3 linked regions of the Homo sapiens genome follow. The protein of the gene in region 2 purifies or fractionates together with the protein of the main gene of each other region. This does not show direct contact. Each region holds a gene or a part of one and is shown on either strand. Other genes may lie near its edges.

Region 1 (3,648 bases), on a different chromosome or scaffold from region 2:
GTGGAGCTCAGGCCTGCCCAGGCGGGGGCCCCGGCAACAGGGAGGGTACGTGTTGGCCGATGCCCGGGAAGTCAAGCTGTGGGGAAAGGCCGGAGGAGGCGGGTGCTGTGGGTGGGCACAGGGAGGACACCGTGGAGGGAGGGGACAGGTGTGCCAGAAAGGTGGGTCAGCAGGAGCTGGCGGGAGATGGAGCTGAGGCCACAGGCAGGAGAGGGGATGGTGTGAGGCTGGCCTGGCCCTCTCAGGGGCTCCTAAACCCACCCGGATTCCAGACTGCTACCGAGCCTGGGGCAGTGGGGTATGCCCCTCACACCTGTACTTCCCCGCCACCCACGGCGGGCCAAGGGCAGCCAAGGAGGCTGCAGCTCTGGGCCCTGCTCCTCAGCATAGCCCTCACCCAACACCTGGCTGCTGCGTGCTCCCGCCTGGGTGTGGGGCCTGGAGGTGGAGGGAGAACCGCCCGCTTCCCTGGCCCAAGCCTCAACACCCTACACTGCACCCCCCACCCCGTCAGGAGACTTCAAGCGGCTCAGGGCACCTGCCCAGGCCTGTTCCCAGACAAAGAAAAGCCACCACAGGCACGGCAGCGAGGAGCCCAGGCTCCGGGCAGGCGGCTCCTGTCTGGAGCCCCCACGTAAAGTGGGCAAGATCCCGGGCCCCACAGGGCTGTGCTGGCGACTGGCAAGATCCAGGCCGGCTCAGGGCTCTGGGCACGTCGACACTGGACAGGGCCAGGGCTGGGCAGAGGCCCCGCATGTAGGAGTGCCCACCCCAGCCTCCACCACGGGTCCAGTCTTGATCTGAAATAACTGAGCCAGGCCCTGTGAGGACGGTCTGGCTTAAGAAAAGGCGTCCAGCCTCTCACTGGCCCGGGCACGGCAGATGTGGGGCCCCAGGCCAGACCTGACCAGTGTGGCTTCGGGTGAGCCCCTCCCCTGGCTCGTCTCCTGTCTAGTGCCAGCCCATGGCTGACACCTGTGCCATGCACATGGATGCCATAGAACAGACATGGGCATGCTCAGACACCCACTAAGCTCTCCTCCGAGGTCTGATGTGCAGCCCTGCGGTTCGGCCACCAGGTAGGTATGCCCCCCGTCCTGCTGTAGGGAGGCGTCCTCGGTACCTGGGAAGGCGCGTTAACCACAGGCTCACACTGTCCCTAGAGATTGCTGGTGTGAAGGTACAAGCCCCAACAGACTGGACTGCCTTATCTCCCTGGCTTGGCACCTGTGGGCACCTGAATAGGGTACCTGTCCACTAATCCTGGGGCACTTGGCCCAGTGTGGGTGGCTGGTCTGCCCTGTTGGGGACATGCAGGGCTTCGTGGCACACGCTGGGAACAGCCCTCCTAGCAGTCCTGCCCCCCACAGGCAGTGGAGCCAGGCCGGAGGGTGAGGCCCAGCTGTGTGGAAGTACGACTCTCTGGGCGGCACGGCCAGGAGGAGCTGGGCAAGACCGGAGGCAGGGAGGCCAGGAGGAGCTGGGCAGGACCGGAGGCAGGGAGGCCAGGAGGAGCTGGGCAGGACCGGAGGCAGGGAGGCCAGGAGGAGCTGGGCAGGACCGGAGGCAGGGAGGCCAGGAGGAGCTGGGCAGGACCGGAGGCAGGGAGGCCAGGAGGAGCTGGGCAGGACCGGAGGCAGGGAGGCCAGGAGGAGCTGGGCAGGACCGGAGGCAGGGAGGCCAGGAGGAGCTGGGCAGGACCGGAGGCAGGGAGGCCAGGAGGAGTCCCGGTTAAACGTTCTAAATGAGCCTAAGAGATGGAGCCCAGGCCCAGGACAGGAGAGCGGGCTGGGAAAAGCACGAGCCTTCCAAGAAGTGCAGAGCCTGGGACAAGCAGCCTGGCCTGGCTTTACTGGGCAGTGGTCAATGCTGTAGCCAGATCTGGCCCTAAGAGGAGCGCTTCACCAGGCTTCGGTTTACTCATTTGTAAAACAGGTCTACAAAGACCCCTTCCGTCTGATGTGTTAACCAGACAGTCATGGGAAACGCTCCACAAGCCGGGTTTCCCCGTGTTCTAAGAGCACCCGGGTTCATGAGTGCTCTTAGGGTACCGGATGCCATTAACTGAGAGGGGTGTGTGTGGGCCTTTGCAGAGGGTGTCCGGGGAGAGGGGGGACACAGCCCGAGGCTGCCCACGAGGTGCACAGCCCCAGCACCTTCTCCCTCCTGGCCACCTTCACAGGAGGTCACGATTATTCCCTTTCTCTCCTGTGAAAAGGCCCGGGGACACCGGGGATGGGATGGGGGTGGGGGCATCTGTGCCTGAGGAGTGCTGTGGCCTGCCTGGCATGGGAGGCTTGGCGGTCCAGCAGGGACCCAGGCCATTGCATCACGCAGGTGGCCCTGTCGGATCAGGGCTCCCCTGGGCTCCGCTCGGTCCTCACGCTGGGGATGATGAGCTCCTCTCATGGAGGGAAGAGCAGCGACACAGCAAAGGCTGAGGACCACCTGGGAACCACGCTGAGCCACCTGGACAGGACAGGGCACAGGGAACTGTCTGGTCTGGTGAGGGGCTGTGTGCCAGGCAGCCTCCGAGAGGCCCGCTGAGCAGGACTGAGAAGCAGATGCTGGTGGGCTCTCCCGGGCCCAGCCGGAAACACCCTTTCAGGGATGTGGGAAGGAGAGGTCCAGGCCCTCTGAGGATGGTTCCCCAGAGTCTGTGTGCCAACCACCCAGGCGGTCAAAAGTGGCACAGAGAAGAAAAGATTCCTTCGGAGGGGCCCAACGAGTGGGTGCTTGGTACAGGCTCCAGGGCACGCTGGTGCCCGCTCCAGCTGGTAGGCGGGCTGCCACTCTGGGCACAGGAGCGGCTGGGCAGTTTCTGTGCCACCGACAGTCCCATGCCCCACTCTGACTTCTGCCCCCAAAACTAGACCTTAGGGCCCCTCCTCTGCCTCAGGCTGGGAGACCCTGAGAACAGGGGTGTCTGCTCCAAGGAGACCCTCCTCTACCCTCCATGTCCCGCTCCCCACCCAGCACAGCCAGGTATAAAGCCAGGAAGGCCTGGGGGTGTCCTCCGAGAAGCTATCCTGGGCCGGGAGCCAGCCGGGTTCTGTGGCTACAACAGGGAAACAGTTAGAGGTGGTCCCAGCGACCAGGGAGCTCAGGTGCCAAGGTGGGGCGCTGAGACCCCAGCAAAGGAGCAAACAGACACACATCACATCACATCAGACATCAGGAGGCCAGACAGGTGCTCTGGGAACACCTATGCCCAGACACAACCTTGCAAGCAAAAGCAGGAGGCCTGCTGGCACGCGGGCAGTGATTCAGCATGAGGGCTCCTGGCAGCGCAGGGGCACCCGGGGTGCCACTCGGCTCCGCCCTTGCCTTCTGTGCCGTGCCCTGGCATAAAGGGAGGGTGGCCGGGTGCCCTGCTGCAGTGCCACCGTCCAGCTGGTGGCACCCAGGCCTGCTTCCTTGCCCATAAAATGGGATGACCACTGCTGTCACTGCAGCCTGGCCTGGCTGTCCAGAGGACAAAGGAAGTCTCAAAAGGGAGCCCAATATGTCCCGACACTGCCCTCTTTCATGAGCTAAGTCTCCTGTCACCCACTGCCTTTTCTGGTCCCTGGGGCAGAGGCTGGGAAGGCCCGCCACACACCCAGGGCCAACTGCTCTCCTTCCCACGAGGAAGTATCAGATCTCTAC
Region 2 (3,648 bases):
TTCAGAGGGGTAAGCAACACGATGAAGACATGAGCCTTAAATCCATCCTTCTAAGCCATCCTTCCAACTCCTGGACATGTGCTCTGTGCCAGCAGATCTAGAATGGGGACAAAGGCTGTGCCATCTATCGTGTGCTGAGCCCTTGAAATGTGACAAGTCAGAACTGATGTGCGCTCTAAGTGTCAAATAGAGACTGTCTCAAAGGCCTTAGTTACCCAAAAAACTGTGAGACACCTGATAATTTTCTATTAATTATAAGTTGTTTTTAATATATTGGGTTAACTAAAATATCTTATTAAAATTAATTTCACCTGGGCATGGTGGCACATGCCTGTAATCCCAGCACTCTGGGAGGCCAAGGCAGGCAGATCACTGGAGCTCAGGAGTTCGAGACCACCCTGGGCAACATGGCAAAACCCCATCTCTATAAAAAAAAAACATTAGGGGGGCACGGTGGCTCACGCCTGTAATCCTAGCACTTTGGGAGGCCGAGGCAGGTGGATCATGAGGTCAGGAGTTCGAGAATACCCTGGCCAAGATGGTGAAACCCCATCTCTACTAAAAAAAAATACAAAAATTAGCCAGGCATGGTGGCAGGTGCCTGTAATCCCAGCTACTCGGGAGACTGAGGCACGAGAATTGCTTGAACCCGGGAGGTGGAGGTTGCAGTGGTGAGATGAGATCGGCCACTGCATTCTAGCCTGGGCGACAGAGCAATACTCGGTCTCAGAAAAAAAAAAATAATAATAATAATACAAACGTTAGCCAGATGTGGTGGTGCACACTTGTGGTCCCAGCTAGTTGGGAAGCTGAGGTGGGAGGATCACCTGAGCCTGGGTTGGTGGAGGTTGCAGTGAGCTGGGATTGCACCACTGCACTCCAGCCTGGGCAACAGAGCAAGACTCTGTCTCAAAAAAAAAAAAAAAAAAAAAAAAAAAGGCTGGGCGCAGTGGCTCATGCCCGTAATCCCAGCACTTTGGGAGGCTGAGGCGGGCGGATCACGAGGTCAGGAGCTCAAGACCAGCCTGGCCAACATAGTGAAACCCTGTCTCTACTAAAAATACAGAAAAATTAGCCGGGTGTGGTGGTGCATGCCTGTAATCCCAGCTACTTGGCAGGCTGGGGCAGGAGAATCACTTGAACCCAGGAGGCAGAGGTTGCAGTGAGCCGAGATAGCGCCATTGCACTTCAGCTTGGGCAATAGAGTGAGACTTCGTCCCTCCTACCCCCCACTCCCCACCCCCTCCCCCCCAAAAAAGGAAGAAAAACTAATTTCACCATTTCTTTTTACTCTTTTGACATGGTTACTAGAAAACTTCACATCACCTAGGGGGCTCACATTTTTTTGCTATTAGACCATTCGGGGCTACAGAGTTCCCATTTTAACCAGACTCAAAAAAAAAAAAAACACTGAAGAAAGAAATTATAGAATTGTGCTCACAGAAACCTTTTTTACCAGAATATCCAACGTTGGTGTATGGCTTCCTGTAAAGCATTTTGCACTCAAACTTCTACGCATAAGACACGAATTCCAAAGGGCTTCGGATGCCTTGAAGCTTACGCATCAAACAGAACTAGAAAAGCTTCGACACGGAAGCAAGCTCGTTTCGCCTCCAGAACGCGCCAGCTGCTCCCCTGATGAATGCAGGCATTCAGGGCTCGTGGATCCGCTGCCGATGCCTCTATTCTGGGCTTCTTCCATATGATTAGGAGGCTGTTCCTACTCTGTAGTTTTTCATTCCAAGCTGCGTGCGATTTTCTGCAATCAGGTTTGTTTCTCCAGGGTTCAATGGGTGGCGACGAAAACACAGAGAGTTTGACAATCCGGGCAGGTGGTGGATACGGAAGCTAAGAGGATTGCACGCGGTGGCTGCATCTGGGGGAGGGTGCGTTAACTCTGCCAAGTCCCTGGAGGGGCCATGAGTGGCCCCAGGGGGCTGCCAGGTGCACAGTGTCCTCTGGCTATGCTGACGCCTCTGATTCTTTGTCTGAGCAGTGAGGTGACTGAGTTGGCCTAAGGCCTCTTAAAGGTTGAACTCAATGAATTAAGGCTGGAGACATTTCTGAATGGCCTGGGGTGTCAACAGGTATGAACCAGTGTGCCCATCATGGCCAGTGGACCCCACTCCCCCATCTCTGGGTGTCAAGCACCAATGGGCGCTGCTGAGAGATTCCGCATGTAACAGGGCTATGGTATAATGGTTTCCCGTGACTGCCGCAACAAACCACTACCAACTGGGTGGTTTACAACAGAAATTCATCCACTTGCGGTTCTGGAGGCTGGAAGTCTGAAATCAAGGTCTTGGTGGGGCCACACTCCCTCTGAAAGTTCAAGGGAGGATCCTTCCTCGCCTCTTCCAGCTTCTGGTGGTCCCAGTGTTCCTTGGCTTGTGGCTCCGTCCCTCCAGTCCCTGTTTCTCATTTCGCATGGCCGTCTTCTCCCTATGTTTCTTGGTGTTTCTGTGTCCAAATTCCCCACTTCTTATAAGGACAGCAATCATTACACTGAGGGTCCACCCTAATCCAAGACGATCTCATTTAACTTTATCACATCTGCAGACCCCACTCCCAAACAAGGGCTCACTCACAGGTCCAGGATTAGGACTGGAACACATATTCTTGAGGAGCACATTTCAGCCCACATGACTGGCTAAGCAGTGGGACCCACAGCCCTCCTGCTCTTATTAACCAAGGGTGGGCTGGGTGTGGTGGCTCACGCCTACAATCTCAGCACTTTGGGAGGCTGAAACAGTAGAATGGTTTGAGCCCAAGAGTTTGAGACCAGCCTGGGCAACATGGTAAGACCCTGTCTCTACAGAAAATTCAAAAATTAGCCAGGTGTGGTGGCATGGGCCTGTGGTCCCAGCTACTCGGGAGGCTGAGGTGGGAGGATCACGAGCCCAGGAAGTTGAGGCTGTAGTGAGCTGTGATTGAGCCACTGCACTCCAGCCTGGGCAACAGAGTGAGATCCTAAACAAAAACAAACAAAAAGGGCCTCTTTGTGCCAGGTGCAGAGCTGGGGCCAGAGTGCAGCCTGGAGATGCCAGGCCTAGGCTGTTGACACAAATGATGTGGTTTATGACAACACCTGCGTTCCCTCTGGGAGTCTAGAATTTTGACACGTGTCAAGCAGAGGGTGACTACATGACCAGCCCCCAGTAAAAAGCCTGGGCAGGGAGTCCTTGGTGGGCACCCTCTGCTGGGGGAATTAAGTGTGTCCCGTATGACTCCACAGGGAGAGAACTCTGAAGCTTGGGCCTGGCCTGCCCGGGAATTCGCGCACCTTTTCCCTTTGCTGATGGTGTTTGCGTCCTTCCGTCACAATAAATCACGGCTGTGAGGACAACTATATGCTGAGTCCTGCCAGTGCTCCTAGGGAACCGGTGAGCCTGTAGATGGTCTTAGGAACCCTGCCACATGCAGCAACTGCAGACCTTCCCGTGAGACAGGTGGCAGCTGGGACCAGGGACCAGGGCGGTGGGGCTGGAAAGAGCCCAGCTGGGGAATTTCCTCTGGAAAGGCCCAGGGGAAGAGCGGCCTCCACCTTGTGGACAGAAGGAGAGCAGTGGAGCGGGGGCAGCTAGGAGATCCCTGTTTACCTGGCACACCATGGGGCACGGTAGAGAAAACGGGAAGGTTACTTCATCC
Region 3 (3,713 bases), on a different chromosome or scaffold from region 2:
TAGTGGCTCATGCCTGTAATCCCAGCACTTTGGGAGGCGGAGGCGGGCGGATCACCTGAGGTCAGAGTTCGAGACCAGCCTGGCCAAGTAGAGTTTGAAACCCCATCTCTAATACAAATACAAAAATTAGCCAGGCATGGTCATGGGCACCTGTAATCCCAGCTATTCCAGAGGCTGAGGTGGGAAAATTGCTTGAACTTGGGAGGCAGAAGTTGCAGTGAGCCAAGATCGCACCATTGCACTCCAGCCGGGGCAACAAGAATGAAACTCTGTCTCAAAAAAAAAAGGAAATCAGATCCACCTACTTATTCTCACCCTCTGGGGAAGGCAAAAGTGAGAGTGGAAATTATTTTCTTCATTTATCTGGGTAAACTGAGGCCCAGAAAGGTTTGGTGCCCTGTTCTAGCCTCCCTGTGAATCAGGGACAGAGGGGTGGCTGTCTGCAGCCCTGCCAAGGACTGCCGCTGCATTTTCCTCATTTGATGTTCACCCCCACACCCGCCGTGAGCAGCCACGGGGATAAGATCGCTCCCATCAATGTAGAAGGGATGCAGGCAGTGTCTGGAAGGGCTTACAGGGTCATCTATTATGAGAAAGAAAATGAACATAAAATGAGTTCATGTAGAAAACACAGAGGCAACAGGCCCCGGAAACATCCCTTGACTTTTGCCTGGGAATTGCCCTTTGGTCCACACAGAATCCACTGCAGGAAGAGGCCAGAAGTTTCTTCTCACCCTGTTGTCTTCTCTCTGTCCCCTCTGTCTTTTCCATCTCTACCCCTTTCCCGCCCTTATCCTTACTGTCCATTATCCTAGGGAACTCAGATCCTTCCGTCTGCAGAGTGAGGGCTCTACAAGAAGGCAAAACTTCTCTTGCTAACATGGACCAATTCTTACAGCAACGCTTCAAAATCGATTGATCTTACAAACTCTTGTCTATGTCCTTTACATAAAACCTTTTCCCCCAAGGAAGAGAGTAGGGCAGGGAGGTGAAGAGGAATGGAAACTCCACCACTCCACCCCGCTATACTAGATGAAGCAGCTGTGTCTCAGAAACAGGGCACTCAGGCTCTCTGGCTTCCAGGGATTAGAGAACAAGGCACAGATCAGCCCCTCCCCCAGAATCACAGGACCGCCAACTTGGCAGATGCATCCAAGGGCACCCTGACTCCTCTGCCACATGGATTGTAGGTCCCAGCGATGAGCAGCCCAATTAACAGTGATGTCAGACTGTTTGGGTCCAGATCATTCCTGAGCCATGAAACAGTTAAGAAATATCCTGCCCCACTGGCTGCCGTGCTCATAAAGGTAGACCCACGTGTACTTCCCTGTGGCTCCAAGAAGCGCCAGCTCGCTCATTTGCTCACACCCAGCAGGCAGAGAAGGCAGCAGCAGGCAGGACCGCCACCCTCCCATGCAAATCACCCCCGGGAGTGCAGCTGGGCTCCTCCCGCTCCTCCTGGGCAATGCTCCTGGGGAGTCTGTGGGGAAGATGCCATCCAGGGCGCTGTGCGCTCTTCCTCATCCTCGCCCTCCTGCTGGACGCGGTCGGCCTGGTCCTTTTGCTGCTGGGGATCTTGGCCCCCCTGAGTTCCTGGGACTTCTTCATCTACACAGGTGCCCTGATCCTGGCTCTCAGCCTACTGCTCTGGATCATCTGGTATTCCCTCAACATTGAGGTGTCTCCTGAAAAACTGGACCTGTAATTTGGCCATGGGAAGAGGAGAAGAGACGCAGGTGCTGTATGCAGACATGTCTGTGAACCTGGGGCTCTTGGGCAGCAACACGTTGCAGCTTCCACCTAGCAAGCCACGCCGGGACCAGGTGAGTGCACACAAGACCTACCTGGCAGGGTGGCCAGAGAGGCTTGGACAAGCAGGGGCAAGACCAGGCCTCCTGAGGCTGCATAAGCAAATAGCCAGACACTGCACCCTGACTGGGGATCCTGTGGCCCTGGCCTCAGGTCCTGCTGGGGTGGCCAGCCAAGAGGACGTGGGGCAGGTGTTTTCTCCTCCGGGCCCTTTTCCTCGCAGAGGCTGGAAAGAGAGTCTCAACAGCCCCTTCCACCCCTGATATACCACGAATGATCCTGGCTTCTGGGCACAATGGGAAGTTATCCCTTTACCTCGGAACTTGGGGACAAAAAGACCCCATCTGCATTCTCTGTTGGGAAGAATCTCTGCTGGGGAGAAAAGTCTTTAGCACAGGAGAGGACGGAAAGTTCCCCAATGACTCTTGTGCCCTTGCATACATGAAGGGGTGTGAACTGGGCCACGGTAAAAGCAAACAGAGCAGAACCACCCAGAACGGCCCCTCTCGTTCACTTCCTCCCTGCACCTGCCCAGATGGGATACAAGAAGCGGGGTAGGGACTACTCGCCTCCATGCCCACTCAGTGCACACACCTCCTCTCTCTGCAGTATTCCCACCCCACCCTCACTCACACTCACACGCAGCCAACACATGTGCCCAGCCAGTCTCCAAGGCCCAGAAGTCAAGACAGTTTGGCTTCATGGATTTCATCCGCTGAGTTGCATGTCACAGCTCAGTCTATCGCGTGCAACCAAAGAGGCAGAGAGTTGTAAGATTTTTTCACATCAAGACAGAGTCCCAGAGATAGAGTGGTCTGGTCCTTACAACCCTGAATTAGAGATGGACAGCTGTCTCCAGGGGACTGAAGTCAGAGCCACGGTCCATTGGGCAGCCATACCCTCCTCCCCAGGTGGGCCCAACCTGCACGCAGGTGTATCCAGGCACTCCCGTTTCTTACTCCCTTACCAGAAGTAAGAGCAAAGGTCGTTGCTGAGTTGAAAGAAGGAAATAATAATTGTGTCTTTTGTGGGGGATTACACCTGACTCTCAGAACTCAGAGAAAAGAGAAGCAAAATGAAGAGGTCTCAGTAGAGTAAGGTAAGCCCATACCTAGGAAATGATGTAGAAACAGATGAGAAGTCAGTCCCACTCTGATCTTCAGCACTTGTTAGCTGGGTGTTTTTGGCCAGGTTGCACACTCTGAGCCTCAGGATTCTCATCTGTAAGATGAAGAGAATATTTCTGGCCCTTATTGCTGCAAGGATCGAAAAGAGATAAGGCAGGGAAAGGCTGTACAATTGATGTGGTTCTTACACCAGATGTCAAGCATACAAAACACATAATCTGGGATGAGTTAACTGACCCAAAGTCCAAATGTGAAGTACCTTGGTGTCTCTCAAATTGGTAGTGATGGGGGTCAACTCACACTTTGCATCAGGAAACTTCAGAGCAAAAAGGGTCCCTGATTTGTGTGCTGGTATGTTGGAATGTGTCAGGCACTGTGCAAGACACTGGGGATAAGAAATGAGACACATGGACCAGGCACAGTGACTCATGCCTGTAATCCCAGCACTTTGGGAGGCCGAGGCGGGCAGATCACTTGAGGTCAGGAGTTCAAGACCAGCCTTGGCAACATGGTGAAACCCCATCTCCACCAAAAATACAAAAAATTAGCCACGCATGGTGATGCACACCTGTAATCCCAGCTATTCAGGAGGTTGAGGCAGAAGGATTGCTGGAGCCCAGGAGGCACAGGCTGCAGTGAGCAGAGATTGCACCACTGCATTCCAACCTGGGCGGCAGAGTGAGACCTGTCTCAATTAAAAAAAAAAAAAGACACATGACGTGGGGGCTCTACTCTCAGGGAGTTTACCATCAGGTGAGAAAGACAGACACTCACCAA

What was found.
Region 1: the proteins of BRI3BP (region 2) and GPC1 purify together in Homo sapiens (co-immunoprecipitation; one large-scale study listed by IntAct). This does not show direct contact.
Region 3: the proteins of BRI3BP (region 2) and TMEM238L purify together in Homo sapiens (co-immunoprecipitation; one study listed by IntAct). This does not show direct contact.

What each region holds. Positions count from the first base shown.
Region 1 is NC_000002.12:240,438,612-240,442,259, reverse strand, and holds part of GPC1 (glypican-1 precursor), read right to left. Parts: intron 1-3,648. UniProt on the Homo sapiens protein: Cell surface proteoglycan that bears heparan sulfate. Binds, via the heparan sulfate side chains, alpha-4 (V) collagen and participates in Schwann cell myelination.
Region 2 is NC_000012.12:125,014,116-125,017,763, reverse strand, and holds part of BRI3BP (BRI3-binding protein precursor), read right to left. Parts: intron 1-3,648. UniProt on the Homo sapiens protein: Involved in tumorigenesis and may function by stabilizing p53/TP53.
Region 3 is NC_000017.11:10,801,716-10,805,428, reverse strand, and holds the start of TMEM238L (transmembrane protein 238-like), read left to right. Parts: upstream 1-1,329; 5' UTR 1,330-1,465; coding exon 1,466-1,705; 3' UTR 1,706-1,823; intron 1,824-2,920; exon of another isoform or gene 2,921-3,030; intron 3,031-3,713.